Regions from separate parts of the Homo sapiens genome. Here all the other regions are linked to region 3. Evidence: fine-mapped QTL for protein levels in blood plasma. A gene starts in region 3. Each other region holds a variant in brackets. All regions are shown on one strand. Distances are from middle to middle. Region 1 overlaps ITGA11 (integrin subunit alpha 11). Region 2 overlaps PIAS1 (protein inhibitor of activated STAT 1). Region 3 holds the start of ITGA11 (integrin subunit alpha 11).

What was found. PIP is the posterior inclusion probability: the model's chance that the variant is causal. The UK Biobank Pharma Proteomics Project read protein levels with antibody pairs (Olink). The fine-mapping took linkage between variants from a reference panel, not from the people measured, so its PIPs are less certain.
Region 1: its variant is fine-mapped to the plasma level of the ITGA11 protein (UK Biobank, PIP above 0.99). The variant lies in the coding sequence of ITGA11. If it changes the protein, the assay may bind it differently, which can mimic a change of level.
Region 2: its variant is fine-mapped to the plasma level of the ITGA11 protein (UK Biobank, PIP above 0.99).

Annotation. Positions count from the first base shown.
Region 1 is chr15:68,356,755-68,365,161 of GRCh38, reverse strand. It overlaps ITGA11 (integrin subunit alpha 11), which reads left to right. Exons shown (of 30, transcript NM_001004439.2): 4 at 364-455; 5 at 3,458-3,572; 6 at 6,577-6,704; 7 at 7,863-8,011. Among named protein-coding and RNA genes, the nearest start is that of ITGA11, 71 kb to the left of the region's middle. RefSeq lists an enhancer at 1-373. The variant G/A (reference allele first, on the strand shown) is at 3,554.
Region 2 is chr15:68,097,881-68,105,880 of GRCh38, reverse strand. All of the region lies in intron 2 of PIAS1 (protein inhibitor of activated STAT 1), which reads right to left. Among named protein-coding and RNA genes, the nearest start is that of PIAS1, 48 kb to the right of the region's middle. The variant C/T (reference allele first, on the strand shown) is at 3,232.
Region 3 is chr15:68,427,927-68,436,333 of GRCh38, reverse strand. ITGA11 (integrin subunit alpha 11) reads left to right here and starts at 4,171. Exons shown (of 30, transcript NM_001004439.2): 1 at 4,171-4,319. The coding sequence starts at 4,268. RefSeq lists a silencer at 2,170-2,464 and an enhancer at 5,011-5,770.

The DNA of each region.
Region 1 (8,407 bases), 71 kb after region 3:
AAGGAAGCCAGCCCAGGTGGGATGCCATGGCATGCTTGGGGGCACACGGGGAAGTGGGGCTCCAGTCGGATGGCTGGAGGAGGAAAAGCTGTGGGCTAGGAGATAGAAGGCTCGGTGAGTGCTCACTGTGTGACCTTGGGCAGGTTGTTTGGCCTCTCTGAGACTCGGTTTTCTCATCTCACAGGCAGTTGTGAGGATGTCCTGAGAGTACGTCTGGGGAAGGCCTTTGTAAACCCTGAGAGCCAGAGGTCCCCAGGGTCAGGGAGAATCGGGGAGGCACCTCGGGTGACCAGACCAGCAGCAGGCTCTGGGCAGAGGGCGGGCAGGAGGGGGCTGCAAGCTGAACTTCTCCCCCAACCCCAGGAAGGGTCACCCTGTCCAACGTGTCCGAGCGGAAAGACAACATGCGCCTCGGCCTTAGTCTCGCCACCAACCCCAAGGACAACAGCTTCCTGGTAAGAGCCACCTGCCACTGCTTGGGGTCAGGAGAGGCAGGGGTGGGGGTGGGGAGGGGTGGAGCGTCTCCTTACACACCCTCATGTCCATCCTGTACACCCACTCTCCCCCACTCCAACCACCAAGCTGCCTGGCCCTGTGCATTCCAGGAAGCAGCTCCCCCGCCAGCTCCCTGCTTATGCCATTCCGGGTGGCAGGGCCCTGGGTGTTTTGGCAGGGACAGTCCAGGCAGAAGAAACAATTGAGCCCTTTTGTGTGCATATCCCGAAGGAGGGAGGAACAGCCAGAAAGGGGACAAGAATAAATGTAGATAGCCAACAAGTCTGGTGGGGGACTGTCCCTTTCCTTGGGGAGCTAGTTGTCTGGGCTGGAGGTCAAATCTCTGCTCTAGGCTTGAAAAAAGAAGCAGGCTGCACCACACACCCAAAGAAGACTTGGAAGGGATGCCATAAATGAGTAAACACAGACTACCACAGCCGAGGGAAGGGCTACAGAGTGACAAGCCGTCTCAACTATCCAGGATTAGATGAAGAAGGCTGGAGGAGGTTTCTGTTTTGTTTTTAAAGAAGAGACAGGCCTTCGCAAGGAAGAAAAGGGCATGTCTGGGTTGAGGTGGTAGAAACATTCATTCATTTAAACAATGATGTTTCTGAGCACTTACCATAGTATGTGCTAAGCCCAGTGCTGGGCACCGGGATTCAGCAATGAATAGAGACCCTGTCCTGCTGGAGCTTACACTGTGGTGGAAAGAGAGGCGACAAGCAAACGAGTAATGTCTAATAGGACTTTGGGGGACAGACAGCAGCAGGCTCTGCTTACAGGTCTCTGTTCTGTGCCCAGGTGAGCACATATGGACTCTGCACATGGTAGTGAGTGTGGGCGGCACAATGGATTGGCACTGCCTGCTCCTTGCCACCACCTTGGAGTGAGCTGCGTTGAGTATGGGCGATGCTTGGGGTTCAAACAGGATCCTTCTGAGACTGATGGTTCCTAGAAACAGTTGCAGGAGAGGACTTCAGAGAAAATTTACCCCAGAAAGCCCAGTACAAATTACTGCCCATTTTTAGATGGGGTGCTTGTGTCAGTCTTTGTTCTGGTCTATTTCTGCTGACAAATGAGACATCTGGGGCATGAATCACAAGACAAATTAGATAAGACAAATAAGACATAAAGATAAGACGATGACTGGGATGCAAGGGGACTTGAGTGCATAGTGGCCCTGCCAGGGAAAGTCATGAGGTGCCTTGATGTATATTCAGCCCACAGCCCTTTATTAGCCATAACCAGAGGCAAAGCAGGACCCCTGGCCCTATCCACACACATATCCGTCAGGGGCTTTGTCTCTACTCCCTTTTCCCTCTCAGGCTCCTTATCACATTTCTTCTTCACAAGGTGGTATGAAGGTCTGAGAGGAATGGTGTGATATATTCTCTGGGGCCTCTGTGAGTAGGTTAATCCTTGGTTTATAGATAGTCACCTGTTCATTGATTCACTCATCTGTCCATTCCCCTCTCAACAATTCATTCCTCCATTCATCTATCCAACCACCCATGCATTCATCTACCCATCTGTCTATACATCGATCCACCATCAATCTCCCATGTAATCATCCATCTTTCCATTTATTCCTTCCTGCATCCATCCATCAACCTCCATCATCTATCATTCATCCACCCATCAATTCATCATCCATCCATCCATCAACCATCCATCATCCATCTGTCATTCATCCACTTATTCATCCATCATCCATTCATCCATCATCCATTCATCCATCATCCATCCACCCATTCATCCATCAACCATCTATCATCCATCCATTATCATTCATCCACCCATTCATACATGGATCATCTATCCATCCATCATCCATCCACTAATTCATCCATCATCTATCCAGCCATCATTCATTCACCCATTCATTCATCATCCATTCATCCATCATCTGTCCACTATCCATCATCCATCCATTATCCATTCATCTATCTGTCCATCCATTCACATCTATCCATCATCCTTCCATCCATCTTCCATCCATTTATCCATCCATCCATTCATCATCCATCTATACATCATTCATCCATCCATCTATACATCATTCATCCATCCATCTACCACCCACTTATCCATCCATCTATCATCTGTCTATCCATCCACTTATCCATCCATCCATCTATCCATTCTTTATTCCCCTCTGTCCCCTGCCACTTCCAAACATTATGTACAGCAGCTTCAACAAAGTACACAGATAAAACATAACCTTTAAGATCTGAGCTTAAAAAGAAAGTAATTAAAGAAAGGGATCGGAAGTAGAATAATTACTCCCCTAAACCAAAGGAAATTACAGCACAAAATTTAGCTCTGGGTTTCCTGATAGCAGGATAACAATGGAAGCATGGAGCTGAGCTTTCATTTTTAATGACAATGACTCTGAGAAGAACCCTTCACTCAGTCCTTCAATGGGGACTGACATCAGTGTTTTTGGTAGAACATTTCACAGAAAGAATACAGACATTCTTATCTTCCCCTGCCCCAGTATGAGCCATGGCATGTTTTTGGGACCCAGTCCTAGAAGTTTGCCCAGTAAGGCCCTTCAGGCGACCTCTCAGACAGAGGAGTTATTCTAGTGACCCTTGAAGTGTTCACACCCGTGGGTGAAAAGGCTTCCCCAGATCCCGTATGGTGGGTGGGTGAGTGGGGTGGGCAGGTAGGGTGAAGAAGTATCATATTCCTAAATGATGAGATGGAGAACAGGGCCTTGAAAAAACAATGAAAGAGACTCCAAGATCAGTTTTTCTCCATTAGACCTGAAACCAAAGGAACTAGTACACATTGCAGCAAGAGAGAGTTCAGTTAGACCCAAAGAAGATCCCTCACCCCCTCACCCCTCAGATAGAAGTCTGTCTTGGGTCGTGGAGGATGGGAGTGGGCCTCAGGCCATTGGACCTCGATCCTCTCTGAGGTCCCCTCACTGACTGGGGATCTGCACTGCCCTCCCCAGGCCTGCAGCCCCCTCTGGTCTCATGAGTGTGGGAGCTCCTACTACACCACAGGGATGTGTTCAAGAGTCAACTCCAACTTCAGGTTCTCCAAGACC[G/A]TGGCCCCAGCTCTCCAAAGTAAGTGGCTTCAAATCTGCAACCTCAAGCTGAGCAGTGGACAGTCCAGAGAGACTTGGGCCCTGAGCACAACAACCTGTGGCTAGAAAGCAGTATTTGGACTCTAGCACTGTCCTGCCCCAGCTCTCCGGATGACCTGGAATGTATCACTCCACTCTCTGGGCCTCTGTGGGAGTCATAATCCTGGCCTCCCTCTCCCAAGTGTGATGGTGGAGAGCAAATGAGCTAAGGTTTCAAAGACAATCCCAGCCTCAAGGGAGGCTCACTGCAGAAACCCTGGGTATATAGGAGGTTACCTGGCAAGCACATGCAGCAGACAAGCTGTGCACTGCACAATTCTGGGGGAATTGTTCACTTAGACATATGAATGGCGCCCCCTGATGTTGTGCAATGCAGTAGCCTTGTAGATGAAGGAACAGGGAGAACAGAAATCTCCTTGGTAGTAGTTCCACCAAATCAGTGCTCCTGGACAGCAGGGAGTTCTGTCCAGCTCGTCCAGAGCCTCATGGAACGTAAAACCTCTTGCTCATTGCCCACCTGCGAAGAAAACCTGGGGAATTACTGCTCAGACCCTGCCTCCCACAAGCCCAGACTTCTTGGCTCTGAGCCTCACTATTTCCTCTGCACTAAATACCATCACCCAAGCAGCTGCTGCCCGTTTTATGGAGGGTTCGGGAATTGGCACCTCTGGCTTGCCTGCAGCCGCCCTCCAGACAACAAGGCCGAGTCAGATGGGGCTGGGGAAGGGAGGAGGAGGAAGCATCAGTCCAGCAGGGGCAGAAAGGTCGTCTTTCTGGGGGATAATGAGACATGGATTCTATTCACACAAAATGACAGAGGAAATGGCAGAGCCAGGGCACAGGAGGAGGCCTGAGGTCAGGGTACGTGAGGGGCCCACCGGGGAATGTCACCACCCCTAGAGCTAGTCCCTCCAGGCCTAGATGTGACCATCCTATGGTCCCTGAACCTCATGTGGTGGAGGCCTCCTCACCTGGCTGACCAGCAGCATTGCTCTGAAGCTTACCAAATGCAGATTCCAGGGCACCCCATGTGGGTCCTAATTCAGTAGGAGTATGTGCAAGTGTGTGTGTGTGCATGCGTGCGTGTGAGTGTGTGTGTTTTTAAGCTCCCCAAGGGAGTGTTCAGCCATGTTTAGGAACCGTAGCCCTCAAACCAGTTTGTTCCCAAGGTATCTTAGAAAGAAAAATGTGAAATTGTAAGAAAGAAATCAACAATAATAAATGCATTATAATAATAAAGCTGGCTTAAAAATAAAAATAAAAATAACCTGTTAAAAGATTATGAACTCCTCCAAATCAAGGAATTTCTGTCTTGGTCACCCCCACTGCTGCCTGCACCATGCAGAGCTCCAGCACATAGCAGGTGCTCAGTCCACATGTGTGGAGCCGAACTAAACCAGAAAAGGACAAATGTATGAGGCTCTGCCAGGCCAGGAGTGTCAGGTCATCACATGCTGTACACAGTATGCAGGTGGGACAAGAAGTGGCGGAGCACTCAAGTTGCCCAAATGCTTCTAAAATGCTCTACTAAACACAAAGCCTGCAACAGGCGTCCCAACTCAAAGCCACCCCCACCTTCCTCTGTCTGCTCAGCACTGACTTCAACATAGTGCCTCTTCGAAATGCAAGAATTACTGGAACAGTTAACACACAAAAGGTTCATGCAGCATTGTTATAAAGTAGATTTTATAACAGCATAAAAAGTCACCAATAAAAATGAGCAATGCCCAGACGCAGAGTGTATGCATTATTTCAAAGTAACTCCAACTGTTGACAAACAGAAATAAATTACTTAGATTTTAAAAGAGGAGGGTTTTTTTAATATTTGTTATGGCCAATATTTTCTTAATTTTCTTTGTTGATTTTCATTATTCCTTTTAATTTAGTTTTTTTTTTATTTGTTTGTTTTGTTTTGTTTGTTTTTGAGGCAGAGTCTCACTCTGTCACCCAGGCTGGAGTGTAGTGGCCCGATCTTGGCTCACTGCAACCTCTGCCTCCTGGGTTCAAGCAATTCTCATGCTTCAGCCTCCCGAGTAGCTGGGATTACAGGTGTGCATCACGACTCCTGGCTAATTTTTGTATTTTTAGTAGAGACGGGGTTTCGCCATGTTGGCAAGGCTGGTCTCGAACTCCTGATCTCAGGTGATCTACCCACTTCGGACTCCCAAAGTGCTGGGATTATGGGTGTGAGCCATGACTCCCAGCCTAATTTAGTATTAATATTACAAAAGCATAAAGAAACCTTTATATTCAGAGGCAGAGATAATGGCACGAGAGCTTGACCTGATGATATCAGTACCATATTAACTCAGTGGTTTCCTTAAAAAATAAATAAATAAATAAAAAGTGAAACCATGATCAGTTCAGATTTATTGAGCATTTGCTTTGTGCTCAGCCCTTTAGAAGCATCTTCTCATTAATTACTCTAGGCAACTCTTTACTATTGTTGTGCCTCTTTTACAGAAGAGAAAACTGAGGCTGAGAGGTTTTGTGACTGACCCTAGGTCACATAGCTAGGGAGTGCCAAAGCCAGGAGTCAGTGTGATGCCACATCCCACATTTCTAGCCACGACATCATATCTCCCTCCTAAAAACAGAAATCCATTCATTTGGGCTGAAAGTGGTAAATGCCAGCCTGCTCATTACAGCAAAACAAACAATACCAAGGTACTGATTTGAGCAGTGCTGGCTGCCTCGGAAGCGTTGGCCGATTGGTAGTGGTCAGTCTCTGATTAGGAATAGAAGTGATCAGGCTTAATTTAAGCTTTGTTCAAACAGCCAGCAGAGTGGTAGAACACAGCCAGGAATTCCTGGGCTCACTCACATTGCCCAAATAAATGTCCAACCCAAGGACAGTTTCCCAGCCCAGGGAATTACACATATGGAGCAGAGTCATTCATTTGTCCTTTGAACAATTGTCCAGAGAATCAGAGACTCGCAGACACTGCTCCTTGGGTAGCCATAACTGTGTCCCCACTTTCCAGGGTGCCAGACCTACATGGACATCGTCATTGTCCTGGATGGCTCCAACAGCATCTACCCCTGGGTGGAGGTTCAGCACTTCCTCATCAACATCCTGAAAAAGTTTTACATTGGCCCAGGGCAGATCCAGGTGAGCATCTCTTGGGCTCTTTCCACTTCTGAACAGGGCCACCCAAACCCATGGCAGGTGCTGCCTTAGGTCTAAGAGAGATCTTTGCATGCACGAAGGAGGTGTAGGTAAGAGGGCAGAGGTAGTAGGGCCAGCCAGCACTGGGGCACTGCAGCTCAGGACACTCCTCTCTGGTGTAGCACATCAAATGACATTTTGGGGGAAGCCTCACTTCACGGGTCAGACACAAGACACCACCTGTGAAGACTTAGACAAGCTAAAAAGTGACAAGGAAGGTGGGAATGGTTGAGTGGAATCTAGAGCCCTGTCGAGTGGGGCACAGGGGAGAATTAGACATACAGGTCATGGAGGGAAGATGGTAGGAGAGGTAAGGGCTGCTAGGCTCATATATCTGAAACGCTGCCTGGCTAACGCGGAGGTAGATTCATTCCCTTTTATTCTGCCTGAGTGAGGACTAATGACTAGAAGTTATTAGATGGCAGATTTCAAGTCAATCTAAGAAATTATTTGTAACGATTAGGGCTGTTAAAAAGGGAGTGGACTTTCTCATGAAGTAATGAGTTCCCCATCACCAGAAGATCATCTTTTAGGGTATCATGGGTGAAAGTCCAGCATTAGAAGGGCACGTGTGCCAAATAAACCCTGTGGGCTCCTCCAACAGGAACGTTTCATGGTTCTATTCCTACTATAGGTCTTGAAGCTTTTTGTTTATTTTGATGCTATTAATATTGTCATTATTTTATCATCCATGGGGATAAAAGAACCTCTTACAAGTTTTAAGGAACCTCAGTTTTGGAGTTTGGTAAACACTGTGACCTTCCACCCACACTATTCATAATTTTTTGGACTTAGACTGATTCTCTGCTCTGCTTTTGTTTTCCTAAGAAAGAAGCATAATTGTTGGGCCTTTCTTTCAATCACGAAGTCTCCATTCTCTATATGCACCCCTTCTTGTGCCACCAAGCTGTCCATTCATTCCTAGAACTTTGCAGAACTCACTTCCCTTTGGCTGTGGTTACTTTCTTGGAAAGGTCCTCAGCCCTCCTCCCTCCTGTATTATCACACAGAGACAACTCCCGGGGATCCTCACTCTCAAATTCTAAGGTTCATGGGTTCATGGGGTCAAAATGTTCTGTTGCCCTCTCCTCTCCCTTGCAGGTTGGAGTTGTGCAGTATGGCGAAGATGTGGTGCATGAGTTTCACCTCAACGACTACAGGTCTGTAAAAGATGTGGTGGAAGCTGCCAGCCACATTGAGCAGAGAGGAGGAACAGAGACCCGGACGGCATTTGGCATTGAATTTGCACGGTAAAAAAAAAGTAGAACAAAAAAAATTTTTTTAGATCTCAGATGCTATTGTAGTTATCTATTGCCTTGTAACACACTACCACAAAATTTAGTACCTTGAGACAATAATTTCTTAATTCCTCAAAATTCTGGAGTTTGACTGGGCTCAGCTGGTCGGTTTTCTCTTGGGTCCTCTCAGGTAGTTGCAGTCTGGTGTCACCTTGGGCTGTTGTCATCTGAAGGTTCTCACGTGGCTGTCAGTTGTTGTTGGCTGTTGGCTGAGAGCTCAGGTGGGACTGGTGACCTGAGCACCCACACGTAGCCATGTGGCTTGATTTCCTTGTGGCATGGCAACAGGAGTTTTAGAGACAGCGTCCCAAGAGTGAGCATCCCAAGAGGCCCAGGCAGGACCTGGGA
Region 2 (8,000 bases), 330 kb after region 3:
CAAGCCACTATCATTAAGAACCATAATTTCATTTTAAGGTTACTGTTAGTTATTTATTTAAAAAAAATTTTTTTTAGAGATGGCGTTTTGCTATGTTGCCCAGGCTGGTTTGGAACTCCTGGGCTCAACCGACTCTCATGCTCAGCCTCCCAAGTAGCTGGGACTACAGGTGTGCACCACTGTGCCCAGCTATAATTTCATTTCATACAGATTAAACACATTTCAGAGGTTTAATCTATAAAGCATAACTGGGGTAAAACTAGAGGTGAAATGCTAGATTGGAAAGCAAAGTGAAAGGAAGCTGCAGACTTAGAAAGGCTAAAATAGATTACTTATGGGGTAGTAAAAGCTCCAGATTCTTTATTCCGGAAACACTAAGTTAAATGTCACTCTCCAATTCTGATGTAGCAAACCTAGATCATATGGTGGGAAAGTGAGAAATATGAGAAAAAAATCATGTACATAAATATAATCTTGACTTGAAATTGACTTCAAAAGAACTCCACGATCTACACAGGCATAAGGAAATTATACAGAAATATACCAATAATAAATACAAACAAATGGCCTGATTTACTTATCTAAAAGTAACCTAGATAAATTCTAGAAAAACTTCTGAAGTAAAAATATAAGTTAGAGTATTAAGATTATCTGGTAAATAGTAATATATTATCTCTGCTAAGAGGAAGTTAACAATTCATATCCTGAGTGAACCTGAAAACCTGAATTTCCTACACTTCTAGATGGATGAAACTGCAATGTGGCAAATTAAATATTGTTACAGCTCAGCTCTCTTGGCTGAGCTTTAATACAATTCTCAATGGAGTCATCAGATTTTCTTAAACCTAACCCACCTACCCTGAGTTGAATGATTGCTTCTTAGCTATACACTATAGTCCTCTCAAAATAATCTAAAGTAAAGCACTAAAGACAAATATTTTCTTCATTCAATAGCAATTCTTTCATAACTTTAATTATTGTACCTATTAAGATTTTGGCTGTCACTATGCAATGTGGGAAAATGCTTCTTCTGTCAGAGACCCTTATGTAAACTTTGTTACATAATTGCTGTACATATTTATGGAATATGTATTTTTGTACATGCATACAATGTGCAATGATTAAATTAGGGTAACTAGGATATCCATCACCTCAAACATTTATCATTTCTTTGTGCTAGGAACACATCATATCTTCTCTTCTGGCTATTTTGAAATACATAATAAATTCTTATTAACTACAGTCTCCCTCTGGTAACCACCATCATCACTACCTCCATGAGATCAATTGTTTTTAGCTCCCACATATAAGTGAGAACACGAAATATTTGTCTCTCTGTGGTTAATATGAATTTTGAAGAAACAACTATGAATACATGTCTGATAGAATAAATTAGTGAAGAGGAGAAGAGGCAAGACACAGTAATTACTCTTAAAAGTTGTTGATGTTGGTAGTAAAATTTAGGCTTAAATGTGTTGGGTAAAATTTCAATAGTAACTACCTACAGAAATAGAAGGCAGAACTCCCAAACCATTAGAAAATAAAAGAGAAACAAAGTATAATTCATATCACAGAGGTCAGAAAAAAATGACAGACAACAAATTAAGATGGCAGAACAAAGACCAAATGTAACAACGTTAGCATAAAATGAGAGTAAGTTAAATTTTAAGACTGAGTTTTTAAAAAGCCAGGTACGTGCTATTTGTAAGAGAGAAATCTACTACAATGAGATGTCACTTCACACCCACTAGGATGACTATATTAAAAAAGGCATATAATAACAAGTGTTGGTAAGGATGTGGAGAGAAATGCGAATCCTCATAAATCACTGGTGGGAATATAAATGGTACAGCTGCTTTAGAAAACAGTCTGGCAGTTCTTCAAAGGTTAAACAAAGTTACCATATGAGCCAGCATTTCTAGTTCTAGGTATTTAACCAAAAGAATTGAAAACATATTTCCACACAAAAAATTATACACGAATATTCATATTAGCCAAAAAGTGGAAACAACTCAGATGCCCATCAACTGATGAATGTATAAACAAAATGTGGTATATCCATATAACGGAATATTACTTGGCCATTAAAAAGAACAAAGTTTCGGCACATACAACTTTATGAACTTGAAAACATCATTCTAAATGAAAACAGCCAGTCACGGAAGGTCATATACCATACGATTCCATTCATATGAGATGTCCAAAACAGGAAAATCTATAAAGACAGATGCCGTATTAGTAGTTTCAGGGGATGGGAGAGGTGGCACTAAAGAGTGATTGATAATGGGTAGAGAGGCTCTTTTCTGGGTGATGAAAATGTTCTAAAATTGATAGTGATGGTGGCTGCACAACTCTGTGGATATAGTAAAACCAATGAATTGTACACTTTAAAGGAATATATTTTGTGGTATATGAATTATATGTCAATAAAGCTATTTTAAAACAAAAAATCAAAAAGAACCCAAAAATAAACACCACAAAAGGTTGAAAACAAAAGAACAAAGTTTATGTCAGACAAATGCTAACGAAAAGCTTAAAAAAAAAAAAAGGATAATAATACAAAACATGGTAGATTCAAGGGCAAAAGCCTAAACACAGAAAAAAAAATATCATTTTATCTTGAAGCTTTCCCCCTAAGATCAAAATCAAAGAAGGGTCAGGCAGAGTGGCTCACACCTGTAATCCTAGCTCTTTGGGTGGGCGAGGCGGGCAGATCACTTGAGGCCAGGAGTTCGAGACCAGCCTAGCCAACATAGTGAAACCCCATCTCTACTAAAATACGAAAATTATCTGGGTGTGGTGGTGCGCACCTATAGTCCCAGCTACTCAGAAGGCTGAGGCAGGAAGATCACTTGAGTCCAGGAGGCGGATGTTGCAGTGAGCCGAGACTGTGCTACTATACTCCAGCCTGGGCAACAGAATGAGACCCTGTCTCAAAAAAAAAAGAAATAAAAATCAAAGAAGGATGTTCACTGTCACCACTATTATTCAACACTCTATTAGAGCCATAAAGCAATAAGGCAAAGTAAATAAATGGAAGGCAGCAGGCAGATGGTTAAGAAATAAAAACTGTCCCTGTTTGCAGAAAACAAGGTAGTCTATGAAGAAATACCCCTCAAATTTACAAAAAACTTCCTAGAACTATAAGTGAACTCAGCAAGGTCACAAGATATAATCACTCAGAAAAAAACAAAATATTTAAGTACAGGTCTAACAAAACAAGTGTGGGAA[C/T]TATATACTGAAAACTATAAAATGCTGATGAATAAAATTTTAAAAAAGATCTAAACAAATGGCAACATACCATGTTCATATACTGGAAGGCTCAAAATAGAAAAATTATTAATCATCCCTAAATTGATATGCAGGTTTAATGCAATTCCTATCAAAATCCCAGCAAGACTATTTGTAGAGCGAGAAGATAATTCTAAAATTTGTGTGGAAAGGCAAAAGAACTAGAAGAATATTTAAACAAAGTAAAAGCAATTACTCTACCTAATTTTATGACTTATTACATAGTCTGACATAGTAATCAAGACCATGTGGTAATGGTGGGAGACAGAAACACTGATCAATGGAACAGAACAGAGGACCCAGAAAGAGACCCACATAGGTACAGACAATGATTGTTGATAAAGATGCAAAAGTAATTCAATGGAGGAGGACGGCCTTTGCAACAGGGGTCTAAGAACAGTTAGATCTCCATAAATGAAGCTCAATCTCAATCTCACACCTTATAAAAAGTAGTAACAAATGGATCACAGATTTAAATGTAAAATGTAAAAATAAAAACTTTCGAGGAAAAAAAAATCTCCAAATCTAAAGTCAGGCAGAGAGGTTTTTGACTTGGCTAGGCACTGTGGCTCACGCCCATAATCTCAGTGTTTTGGTAGGCTGGGGTGGGAGGATCACTTGAGGCCAGGAGTATGAGACCAGATCCCGTCTCTACAAAAAGTAAAAAATAAATTAGTTGGGCGCGATGGCACACACCTGTAGTCTCAACTACTCAGAAGGCTGAGGCAGGAGGATTGCCTGAGCCCAGCAGTTCAAGGCTGCAGTGAGCTATGATCACATGCCACTGCATTCCAGCCTGGGTGACAGAGCAAGTCAAAAAAGTGGGGTGGGTGTGCAAGTGGGGTTGTTAGACTAGAAACCTAAAACACAAATCTAACAAAGAAACAAATCAGTAAATGAGACTTCCTCAAAATTAAACATTTTGTTCTATGTAAAAAGATCCTATTAAGAAGACAAGCCAGGCGCAGTGGCATGCATCTGTAGTCCCAGCTACTCAGGAGGCTGAGGCAGGAGGGCTGCTCGAGCCCAGGAATTTGAGATTAAGGTAAACTATAATCACTCTTGTGAACAGCCACTGCACTGCAGCCTGAGCAACACAGTGAGATCCCATGTCAAAAACAAACAAGGAAACAAACAAAAAAAAAGACAAGTTACACCACAGGAGAAAAGATCTGCAAACCACAAACCCAACGAAGGACTAGAATCTAGAATCTAGAAAGAACTCTGAAAACTCATAAGTTAAAAAAAAAAAAAAAACACTGCAATTAGAAAAGACAAAAGACATAAAAAGATATTTCACTGAAGAGGATATTCAGATGGCAAATAAACAAATAAAAGGATGTTCAACATCATTAGCTATTAGGGAAATGCAAACTAAAACCACCATGAAGGCCAGCCACGGTGGCTCACACCTGTAATCCTAGCACTTTGGGAGGTTGAGGGGAGAAGATCACTTGACTCCAGGAGTTTGAGACCAGCCTGGCCAACATGGTGAAACCCTGTCTCTACAGAAAATACAAAGAATTAGCCAGGTGTGGTGGCGTGTGCCTGTAGTCCTGACTACCTGGGAGGCTTGAGAGGCGGGAGGATCACCTGAGCCAGGGAGGTTGAGGCTGCAGGGAACCATGATCATGCCACTGCCCTCCACCCTGGGTGACAGAGCGAGACCTTATCTCAAAAAAAAAAAAACAAAACAAAAACAACAACAAAACACAATGAGATATCACTATACTCCTATCAAAATGGCAAAACTAAAAAATAGTGATAGCATCAAATGCTGACAAGGATGCAGAAACACTGGATCATTCATTCATGGCTGCTAGGAATGTAAAATGATACAGTCAGTCTGGAAAATAATTTTGCAGACCTTTTAAAACTAAAACTAAAACTACCATACAGCCCAGCAACTGATAACCCTTGGGCATTTACCAGAGATATAAAAATTTATTTTTGCACAGGAAATTGTATATGAATATTCATAGTAATTTTATTCATTAACAGCCAAACACAGAAAACTACACTAATGTTCTTCAGCTGGTAAATGTTTAAACAAATGAAACTACATTATATGATAGAATACTTCTCAGCGCCCCCCTCCCCGCCCCTTAAAAGGAACAAACTAGTGATATACACAGCAACTTGGATGAACCACTGGGGCTAGAGAGAGTGGGTGAGGTTATCAAAAAGTTAGCAAGAGGGAGTCTTGTGGGTGACAGGACAGTTAGGTATCTTTTATTGTGGTGGTAGTTACATGTGATAAATCTGCACAGAGCTACAAATACACATGACTGCAAATACAACTAATAAAATCTGAAAAGCTCTGTGTATTGTACCAATGTTATGTCCTAGTTTGGATACTGCACTATATTAAGAAAGATGTTAACAATGGAGAAGGCTAGGTTAAGAGTACACAGGATGTTCCTATACATTTCTCAACTTCCTACAAATCTGTAATTATTTCAAGATCAAAAGGTGTTTTTTTTTTTTTTTTCCCGAAGAAATACAAGCTACAGACTGGAAGAAAACATTTGCAAACTACATCTCTGACTAAAACTAGTATCTACAATATGCAAAGGAACTCTCAAAAGTCAATAATATAAAAACAAGTAATTCAATTAAAGAATGAGAAAAATATGCACAGACATTTCACCAAAGAGTATAAGTATGTCGACAGATGGCAAATAAGTATGTGGAAAGATGTTCAACATCATTAGTCATTAGGAAAATGTAAATTAAAACCAAAATGAGTTATCGCTACATACATACTTAAACATCTAAAAATAAAAAAAGTGACAATAACAAATATGCTGGCAAAGACAGAGAAAAACTGGACCTCTCATACAATACCAGAAGAAACAGAAAGTGGTACAGCCACTCAGGAAGACAACTTGGTATTTTCTCCCAAAAAAAAAACCCCCAAAAACCCATATACTTACACATATGACCCAGCAATTCCATTCCTGGGCATGTATTTGGAGAAAAGAAAACTTATGTCCATACAAGCACCTGTACATGAATACTCAGGATAACATTATTTATGATAGCCAGAAACTGTAAACAACCAAAATGCTCTTAAATAATTCGAATAGTTAGAGAAATTGTGATATATCCATACCATGAATCATTACTTAGCAATAAAAAAGAACTGATGGCTAATGTGCAACACCAATCATAAAAAAAACTCAAAAGACAATCACAATGGAAAAAGTAGTCACAACTTATATCACAAAGTGCTAAATTTCTTAAGTCTATAAAAAAGGGTAAAAAGCCCAACCACCAAATTTCAAAATAAAAAGCTCAAGGAACTTTGAAGAGTAAAAAAAAAAAAAAGAAATATATATACATATATAGTCACCCAGCCTGAGTGACGAGAGTAAAACTCCGCTCATAAATAAATAACGATGTGCTTTTATAATTTAAAAAATATATTTTTAAAAACAACAACAACAACAACAACAAACTTCACCCTCACCCATAAGAGAAGTGCAAGTTAAAACTATAATGAGTTATAAATTTTCGCTGTTAATTTGGAATGATCAAAAAGTTTAATAACACATGGTATCGTTGAAGGCACAGGAGGAAAAAACAGTCTCTTACAGAGCCTGTAAGATTATAAATTAGCAAACACACCTTTCTCTAGAGGGAAATTTGGCAACATCTACAAAAAATATTTAGATGCACTTTCTATTTCTAGGAATTATAAAACTACTGGCTATATTTAGACAAGTGCATAGTGATATATATCACAGAATATTCTCTACAGCAATGTTTTCAACAGCAAGAAACTACCCAAATGTTGACCAACAGGGGAATATTTAATAACACAGAATCCAACGAATCTATTGCCTACTAAGTAGCTGCTAAAAAAGAATGAGGCAAATATGTTTGTTTGTAGGTGCAGCAGCTACCCCAGTAAAAATATAAAAAGAACTGAAAGCAACACCTGTGACTGAAATAAGGGTGAAAGAGGGACTTCCTTTTCATTGCAAACCCTTTTGTAACTTTTGAGTTTTGTACATCAATGTATTATCTATTTAAAAATTTAAAAACAATCAAAAAATTAAGTACAATTGACCCTTGAACAACACAGATTTTAACTGTGTGGGTCCATTTATACACAGATTTTCTTCCACCTCTGTCACCTCTTAGACAGCAAGATGAAAATCCTCCTATTACTCCTCCCCTTTAGCCTACTTAATGCAAACATAACAAGTATGAAAACCTTTATAATGATCCACTTAATAGTAAATATATTTTCTTTCCTTATGATTTTCTTAGTAACAGTTTCTTTTCTCTAGCTTACTTTGCTGTAAGAATACAGTACACAATACATACATATACAAAATACGTGTTAATCAACTGTTTATGTTATTGGTAAGGCTTCTGGTAAACAATAGGTTATAGTAAAGTTTTGGAGGAGTCAAAAGTTACATGTGAATTTTTGACTGTGTGTGTTGCAAAGGTGGCATCCCAATCCCCTTGTTGTTCAAGGGTCAACTATACAATAATTCCATGTTAGCAGAAAAGTATACAATTAGACCAGTGGAACAGAGTAAGATCTAGAATAATATTCAAAGGAAGTTTTGGGAAAAAAATAAAATTAGAGCCCTATACTCATGTAAACAAAAATAAAATTCAGAATTGATTAAAAAACCCCACAAATGTCAGAAGTGGAAAATGTTATTTACTCCTCTAGGAGGTAGCATAGG
Region 3 (8,407 bases):
ACAGAGCAAGACTCCATCTCAAAAAAAAAAAAAAAAAAAAAGCATTGGTCCTAACTGAGCCAAGGCCTCTGTCATCAGTACTCCAGACCACTGCTCGTTCTCCCTCCATAGAGAAGCCAAGGTCCTCCCAGAGGAGCATGCTCAGACTGAAATCTTGGGAGCCACAGAAGTTGCCAATAGGACCTGTCTCTGAGCTGACCATGCTCATGCAGTCTTGGCCTGAAATACCCGCTCCCTCCACCCAGTTGGGATGTTGGGATTAATACTCAATCTGCTTTCAGAATGCTGGGTTCCAATCTCAGTTCTGCCTCATAGATGATGTGGAATCTTGCGTGAATCTATTGCTACTTTGAGCTTAGATTTTTTAGTAACCATGGATTTGTCTGTCCAGTATACTTTGCCATCCCACTTTTTCTGGTTCCTTTAGGAAAGTCCTCTCCTGTAATATGTGGTTTTGATGGGGCTGTCAGTCATGGCGCCTTTCTCTTCCCAAGTCATGGGGCTGGGTGTGTGTCCCAAACTGAGCTAATTATAGCACCATATCCTCCAGACACTAGGACTGGTTCAGGGGTGGGCATGAACCAAAGCCCTAGACTTTTCTGCTGGATCTACTAAAGGAAGGCTGTCTCTCTCCCTTCAGAATCTATGAAGTATAAGCTTGGGACTGCTAGACAGTCAGAGAAACTCTTCTGCTGCAGGAAAGGAAAATGGAGTGAAGCAAAACTAAGAGAAGACAGAGAGAGAGCAGTAACATTGATTTGAGACCCTTGATCCAGCCACACCTGCAGACAGAACACCTTTGCACTTCCTAGTTACATGACCTTTTACATTCTATTTTCTGCTTCAGTTTGATTGTGTTGAATTTCTGTCACTTGCAAGTGAAAGAATCTTCAACTATACAATCTCTTTACTATAAAAAATAAATACAATTTTGTACAAGATGAGTATTAAATTAGATCATGGATATGAAAGGGATTTCAAAAATAGTAAAACACTATACATAGCACTTGTACATTGTTGGTAGGAATCTAAAATGATGTAGCAACTGTGGAAAATAGTTTGGCAGTTCCTCAAATGATTAAACATAAAATTACTATATGATCAGCAATTCCACTCCTAGGTGTATACCCAAGAGAACTGAAAACATACATTCATACAAAAACTTGTATGAACATTATGCTAACATTATGCTATGTTAATGGATGGTAGAACTGCTACCAGCAAGACCGGCAGCACAAGTGTTCATAGCCACATTATTCACAATAACCTAAAGTGGAAACACCTAAATAAGCCTCACCTGATGAATGGATAAACAAAAGGGGGTAGATCCATACAATGGAATGTTACTTGGCAATAAAAAGGAATGAAATACTGATACATGTTGCAACATGGATGAACCTTGGAAACATCATGCTAAGGGAAAGAAGCCAGACTCAAAAGGTCACGTATTATATGATTTCATTTATATGCAACGTCCAGAATAGGCAAATCCATAGAAATAGATTTGTGGTTGCCAGGGACTGGTGGGAAGGAATGGGGAGTGACTGCTCATGGTTACAGGGCTTCTTTTTGGGGTGATAAAAATATTGTGAAATTAGTGAGGATGATTTTACAATCTTGTGAATATACTAACAACTACTGGATTCTATGGCACAGTTTATGGCATGTGAATAAATAAATCAGTTAAAACACTGTGTACATGTAAAGAGTTATTATTATTATTCAACAGAAATCACAGCTTTCATAAAGCCCTTCACCAAATTCTCTGCAGTTCTCCAGCCTTAGAGTCTGGATTGTGCACTTGTCACTCATATGCTGCTGCCTTGGGTGTGATTTAAATAATGTTTAATAGTGATGAAATAATAAATGGTTTTAAATAGATTAATAAATAACAGATTATGATTAAATAAATACATGGTTATGTCTTGTCTCCTCAGCTCCATCACCAGCTGCCCTAGTGTGGGGTTCTCCTTCCGTGTGTCCTACAGAGCACAGGGGCACAGTAGGCACTCTGTAGGATCTGTTGAAAGAACAAATGAGGGCACACCTCTCCCCTCACCCTCCCACATTACACAAAAGCACACAGAGTGATCCTCAGGACCCCCATTCCCCAGGCACCTGTGAGGACGGTGAAGGTGAATGAATGGTAGAATTGTTACCAGCGAGACCAGCAGCAGCGCAGCTAGGACAGCCACTACAGTGCGCCCCTTCAGCAAGCAGCATGCAGACTCTGAGCACAAGCTGCAGACCACCCACACGTCAGAGGTGCCTGGGGCACCCACCAGCATGCCCTGATCCTTGGGGAATTTGCATTCTTTGCACGTGCTCCAGGTCGTTCTGATGCACCTGGAGATTTGTGCAAGGCAGGAATGTGGGCTGCAGCCCATTCCCTAGCTGTAGGGGTGTTCTACATTCAACTCAGCTGGCTTAAACTCAACTCAGTGAAGAGGACTCACTGTCGTATAACTGATAAGTCCCAAGGGGAGTGGGGTTAAGGGGTGGCTTCATTCAGGAGTTCAACAAGATCCTCCATTCTGTCATCCAGTGTCCACCTCATCTCAAGGCCAGATCCTCCTTCCCTACCCTGACCCTGTCAACTTCTGAGCCTACAAAGTTCCTTGTCCCAGGCTGGGAGAGGAGGCAGGAGTGGGAGAGGTGAGGAGAGAGAGTTAGTTCATTTGTTTGTTTGTTCTAGGGGCTCTTTTAGAAAGGCAAGAAAGCTTGCTTCCCAAAAAAACTTTTTCTTTTGTCATATTGCCCTTTCTGAAACGATGGGCTGGGAAGGGCAACATACTGATTCATTTCAGCCTGAACCGCATGCCTCCTTACACACACACACACACACACACACACACCAGGGACGGAATCACCTTCCCCGAGTCTGTGGCTGAATGGGTGAGGTGAAGATGAAGTAAAACCCAGATAGCCAACCGAAAGATAGTGAGGTTGGGAGACGAGCACAAGCCCACTTCACTTATGTGAACCTGGGTCTTCTCAAACTCCAGCTCATCTTCAGGGGCCCTGACTGAACATCACCTCCTCTGGGAAGCCCTTCCAATACCTCCCAGATAGAAAACTCTATCCTTTGTGCACCCACACACCACCTGTACTCACCCATCCATCCACCCGCCCACCTACTTTGTTCCTGGGTGTTAGGGGCTGAGTACTCCATTGTGAACCAGAGATTTCTACCCTGATGGTGTTTTCAGTCTGCACAGGAGAGAAAAGTTAAATGATCACACCAATTGATGCCTTGCTTCTCTACTAAGCACAATGAAGAGAAATGAGGGAGAGCGGGCTGGGGAATATCAGCATGTGTCTGGGACTCAACCTGGTGGGGACGGGAAGAGGGGGTGAAGGAAGCCTTTCCTGAGAAAGTGGGGGAAGGGCGCTCTGCTGTGGCTTTCCCTGCATCTTGGCCTTCCTACCCTCTGCCTCGGCTTCCTCCATTGCTGGAAAAGCCTCCACAAGCGCGGTGGAGGTCCGGGGCCTGGATTTAAAGCTCTTGAGATAAATGTGCATTGAATTTAACTACCAGTGATTAGAAGAGGGAAAGAAGGTGGCAGGGTTACAAAGAAGAGCTTCACGTTAGGTTAAGAGGGGGTGCACGGTGTCCCTGGGTGCTTTGGAATGCCTCAGGTGTGGAGGCTCAGGGAGTGGCAGTGGAGGCGAATCTGCATGTATTCCAGGGTCAGAAGAAACACTAGCCTCTACAATTCAAGCCGCAGGGTGCAGGGAGACACGGGGATGTCTTAGAATGGACCTTTGAGGGACATCCACTCACTTGGCCAAGGGAGACCTGCGTTCCAGCAGGTGTTCCTGAGCCAGCTTGGGTACCCTCTGAGTTTTGTGAATCTCTTTTCACTGGGAAATGGGAATAAAAACCACTTTTCCTGAACAGAATCTGACTGAGGCGGTGCGGTGCTACACTGGTGAGGGGGTTCCCAGGAGCGGTTCTCTGGAGTTTTCTCCAGAGGCTGACGTGGGGTTGGCGGAGAAGGAGCGCTGCACAGGCGCGTCGAGGCAGCGCGCCGCCTGCCCAGGTGGCAGAGCGGCCGAGACTGGCCCAGAGCCCGAGCCGGAGTGGTGTCCGGCGCCCCTCCCCTCCGCTCGAGCCCTCCCACTTCCTCTGAATGAGCCGCAGCTGTCAGGGAGCCCGGCGCCCCGCGCAGTGCAGGCTGCAGGCGCCGCGCCGAGGAGGCTGCCGCTCTGGCTTGCCGCCCCCCGCCGCCGCTGCACACCGGACCCAGCCGCCGTGCCGCGGGCCATGGACCTGCCCAGGGGCCTGGTGGTGGCCTGGGCGCTCAGCCTGTGGCCAGGTAGGTGCCCACCCTCTGCCTCCCCTTGCCTCTCGGAGTCCCTCCCTGGGCCCTCGGGGCTTGGATCCAGCGGCCAGGATCGGGACGCGACCCTCCTCCCAGGGTCAGACCTCAGCTGCTCTTGGGGACGTGGGTCCCCCAGGGACTGGCCCCAGTCTAGCGGTTCAGTCAAGTTTCGCTAAAGAGGGAGGTGCGAAGGCTATTGAAAGCCGGGACTCTTTGGTGTGTTTGGGAAGAGTTGAAGAGGCTTGAGTTGAAAAGCTCCCAGATCTGGTGGCCCTCCTGGGCGCCTTAGGTGCCTCCAAGGCCCATGCCGGGGTTCCCGCACGGCTGCCAGGGGCACTCGGGTGTCCCGGGAGCGCCGAGGGCGCACGGCCCCGGCTGGGGAAGGGAATCAGCGCCAAGAGAGTGTGCCCTGGCTGCCCTCCTGCCTGGCTCCGGGGAAGCATCTCAAAGTTTGGAGAGCCGGGCGCGGCGGCCCCGGAGGGCTGAAGGGTGGGGGTGAGGGCTGCGCAGAGTGCCTCCGGCCAAAGACAGAGCAAAGCCCCGGGGCGATGGCCGGTAGGCGGGGGCTAGCTCTCGTCTGCCCGGCCAGCAGCGGCGGGACACAGTCGCGCAGCGCAGGACCCCCGAAACGTTACCTGACACCCGGGGTAGGGACCCGGCATTGCCTCCCAACCCGCGCTCGGAATTATGCAATTATTCAATAATCTGGGGAAAGCCGCCGTCGCCTAGACGCGCGCCGCCGCCTAATGCACTCCAGGTGTCGGGGCGCGGCAGGAACCTCCGGCCCGAGGGGCGCGCGGCTGGGAGCGGGAAGCCAGCCCTGAGCTCTCCGCCCTAGGGTACCCTGGCCCCGGCCGTCCCACACCGGGCTCCCCGGCTCCACCCTCCACGCGGGGCGGCTGCCAGTGATGCTGTTCTGCGGAAGACGGCCAAGTGCTCCGGCAAGGGCCAGCGCCTCGGTTACTGGCCGGGTGTGGGCGCTCAACCTTGCCTCCCCTTCTGCGTGGGCTCCAGGCCCGAGCTGGGGCCAGTAGTGGGGGTCAGATGCGGTGGTAGTGGGAGAGGTGCCCTCAGGGAGCTCAGGTGGAGACCCCTATCCCGCAGCCGCTTGCCCCAGTCCCCGGGTACCACGCGAAGCAAGTCCACCCTCCTGTCGGCCTACAGAGGAGCTTCTCAGAGGGCCCATGGTTGAAAGGGCCTCTGGCTAGTGGAATCCTAGAGTCACAGTTTAAAACAATCATTGATACATTGAGTTGTGGGGGCTTGGAAGGGAGAGCAGGGGAAGAACTGCCACCAGGCCAATATGCAACTAGAAGCCAGCTGCGGGAGGAGGCCAAGCCCATTTAGGTGTGTTTAGACAGGAGGGGAGAATCTTCTCCAGGAACTGTCCTCATATCACTAGGAGATCCAGCCACAAGAAAAGAGACGCACTCCTGTGTGACTCCAGATAGGTGGCTGCATCAGAACCTTGGGAAGGAGTGGCTGCCTTAGGGGCTAGGGACAGCCTGGACCTCAGGAAGCTAAGAGCAATGGCTTTGGAATCAGACCTGGCTTCCACTTCTGGCTCTGCACCCTGCTAGCTGTTCAATCTTGGACTGGTTATGCGACCTTTCCAACAGGTTTCCTTATGTGAAGAATGGAGACACAAATTCCGTGTCCTGTAAAGTTGTCAGGATGCACTAAGGCACTGTAAGAAAGGCCCTTAACACAGGGCTGGGTGCACAGTAGGCTTTAATCAATGGTTGTTAATGTTGTTGCTACTCAAGGAGGAGGGGGCAGAGAATGACATTAAAGGACCTCTGAAGACACAGGATTTGTGACTCAGAGCTCCGCTTATATGGCGAAAACCACTCCTGAGTTATGTCTGGTCAGTTGCATTCTTGAAATATGGGATTCATTAAACATATCAATCAATGTTGGAACAATGACATCTGCTTGCAAGGAGCTGGGGGTGGGGCCCTAGCGTGTGTGCAATCTGGGTCCTGCCTGTAACTGAGAATAAGCCAAGGCCAGGGAAAGCTAAACAGAGGCACCAGGGAGTGAATGGCTTGGGGAAACCAAGGGCTGGGTGTTCAAACAAGAGAAGTTCAATTTCAGCCAGATAAGCAAGGAAGGCTTCCTGGAGGAGGAGATATCATTTGAACTGGCCCTGGAAAAGTGTGTAGAGTGTGCATGGGCCTGAAAGTGGGAATGTTCATATTTTGGAGTATTATTTTCTGAGACTAGTTAAAGAAGATGATGAATATTTTAAAACCACTCTGGTCAGTGTGGACTTTGAAGACTAGAAGGGTCTCAGGGATCATTGGGTTCACTCCTCAGGCTCCAGGACAGGACTGATGTTGATACCTCATCCATGCATCACATGAATTCAATGTGAGGATTACCAGGAAGCTTGTCTACTGGTGATGGCAGTTTGGCTGGGCAGGGAACCTGTCAGAGGCCAAGTTGAGGGTGAGACCTCAGAGCATCTACTCTCCCAGAGCTCCAGCTGCAGGCTGGACAGCGTGATGGGGTAGACAAAACTAACAGGAAAGCCTAAAAAAAAAGTAATCAAGTCCAAAGAGAGAGATCCATTGACCAGAGCTTTACAGTCATAACCTATCTGTAGGAAGGGTGATGATTCTTAGAAGCATAATCTTTGCTGAGCACCTGTTATCTGCCAGGCCCCATAAAGACACAAAGTGAGATCAGACACAGCGTAAGGGTGGAGGCCCTGGAGTTTCACTGCCTGGGATTGGCCTAGCCCCTGCCGGTTAGGGCTCTGTGCTCTTGGCAAGTTACTCCATGGCTCTGTGCCTCAGTTTCCTCACCTACAAAGTGGGGGTAATAATAGAACTTAGAGTTATCACAAAGATTAATGCTTAGAAAGTGCCAGGCATGTATTAAGCACTCAAGGAGGTTGTCTTCTCCAACATCATCAGCAGCAGCAGTAGCACTCAAGATATTGACTATTCAGGATCTAAGGACACAGAGATATAACTTTCAAACTCAAGTTCTCAAGAGAAGTTTAGAGGAAGTACATTGAAGAATCAGAGGAGACATACATGCCAGGGCCCCAAATGAGTGAAGACTTTCCTAGTCCCTCCCGCAAAGCCCTGGCCCAAACTCTTGATCATAATAAGAACTCAGGGTTGTTGTTTTGTTTGTTTGTTTACCATCGGGGCTGTCTTGAAGTCAGTATGCTCTTGATGTGGGTGTATTGTGGTGTGGAAAAGGAGAAGGCCCATACCATGCAACATGGCCCTTGTGGGTAGGGGTCCTACCCAACAGAAAGCAACCTGTGGAAAAGCACAGTGCTAGACACCACAGGTGTACAAAGGCTCCAGAGGTCCAAGACTTGCTCCCAGCCTCTCCTTCCCAGTGGAGAGCAGGGAAGAAGGGAAAGTTTGTCACTTTGCCACCCCATTGCCCACTTTGACAGCCAAGCCCCTCAGCTGCCATTAGCTGAGGAGCTTCTGGATCTTTCCATATCACAAGCAGACCCTGGAGTCTCACTCTTTTTCTGCTTACTCACCATGACCCCATCTCTACCCCACAGTGGACCCCCAGAGAGGGGATGTCTATCTCCATGCTCTTCCCACCATTCCCAGCCCATCCACACAGGGCTGTGAGCCCTGGAAGAACTCAGACAGTATCTTACCTCTCAACCTTGCCCTCTCTGAACCTCTTTTTCCACCCTCCTGTAGTGGGGAGCTCTTCCTTCTTCTAACAGCAGGGACCTTCCCTTGCATTCTCCCTCCCTTCCACCAACACCCCCAGCTCCTATCACTTAGGATAAAAATATGTTCTAAGCTGAGCTGGCTTTGCTCTTGCTATGCAGAAGGGAATTTGGGGAATTTTAAAAGCCCCTGTTTCTTCTCCACAATGCCTGACTTTGGGTGTTATTGTCTCACCATGGGCTTCCAGAGCTTACTTTGGGGGTCAAAGTCGAACATTGTTCTAGGATCCATCATAACCCTCCCCAGGCAGTGATGGGCTCTGGCTGACTCAGGGAAGGTCAGCTACAAAATGAGCCTTAAAAATCCTCTAATATGGTTCAAAAATGGTATCTCTGCTGATCCTCATCACTGAAGTCCCCTTCC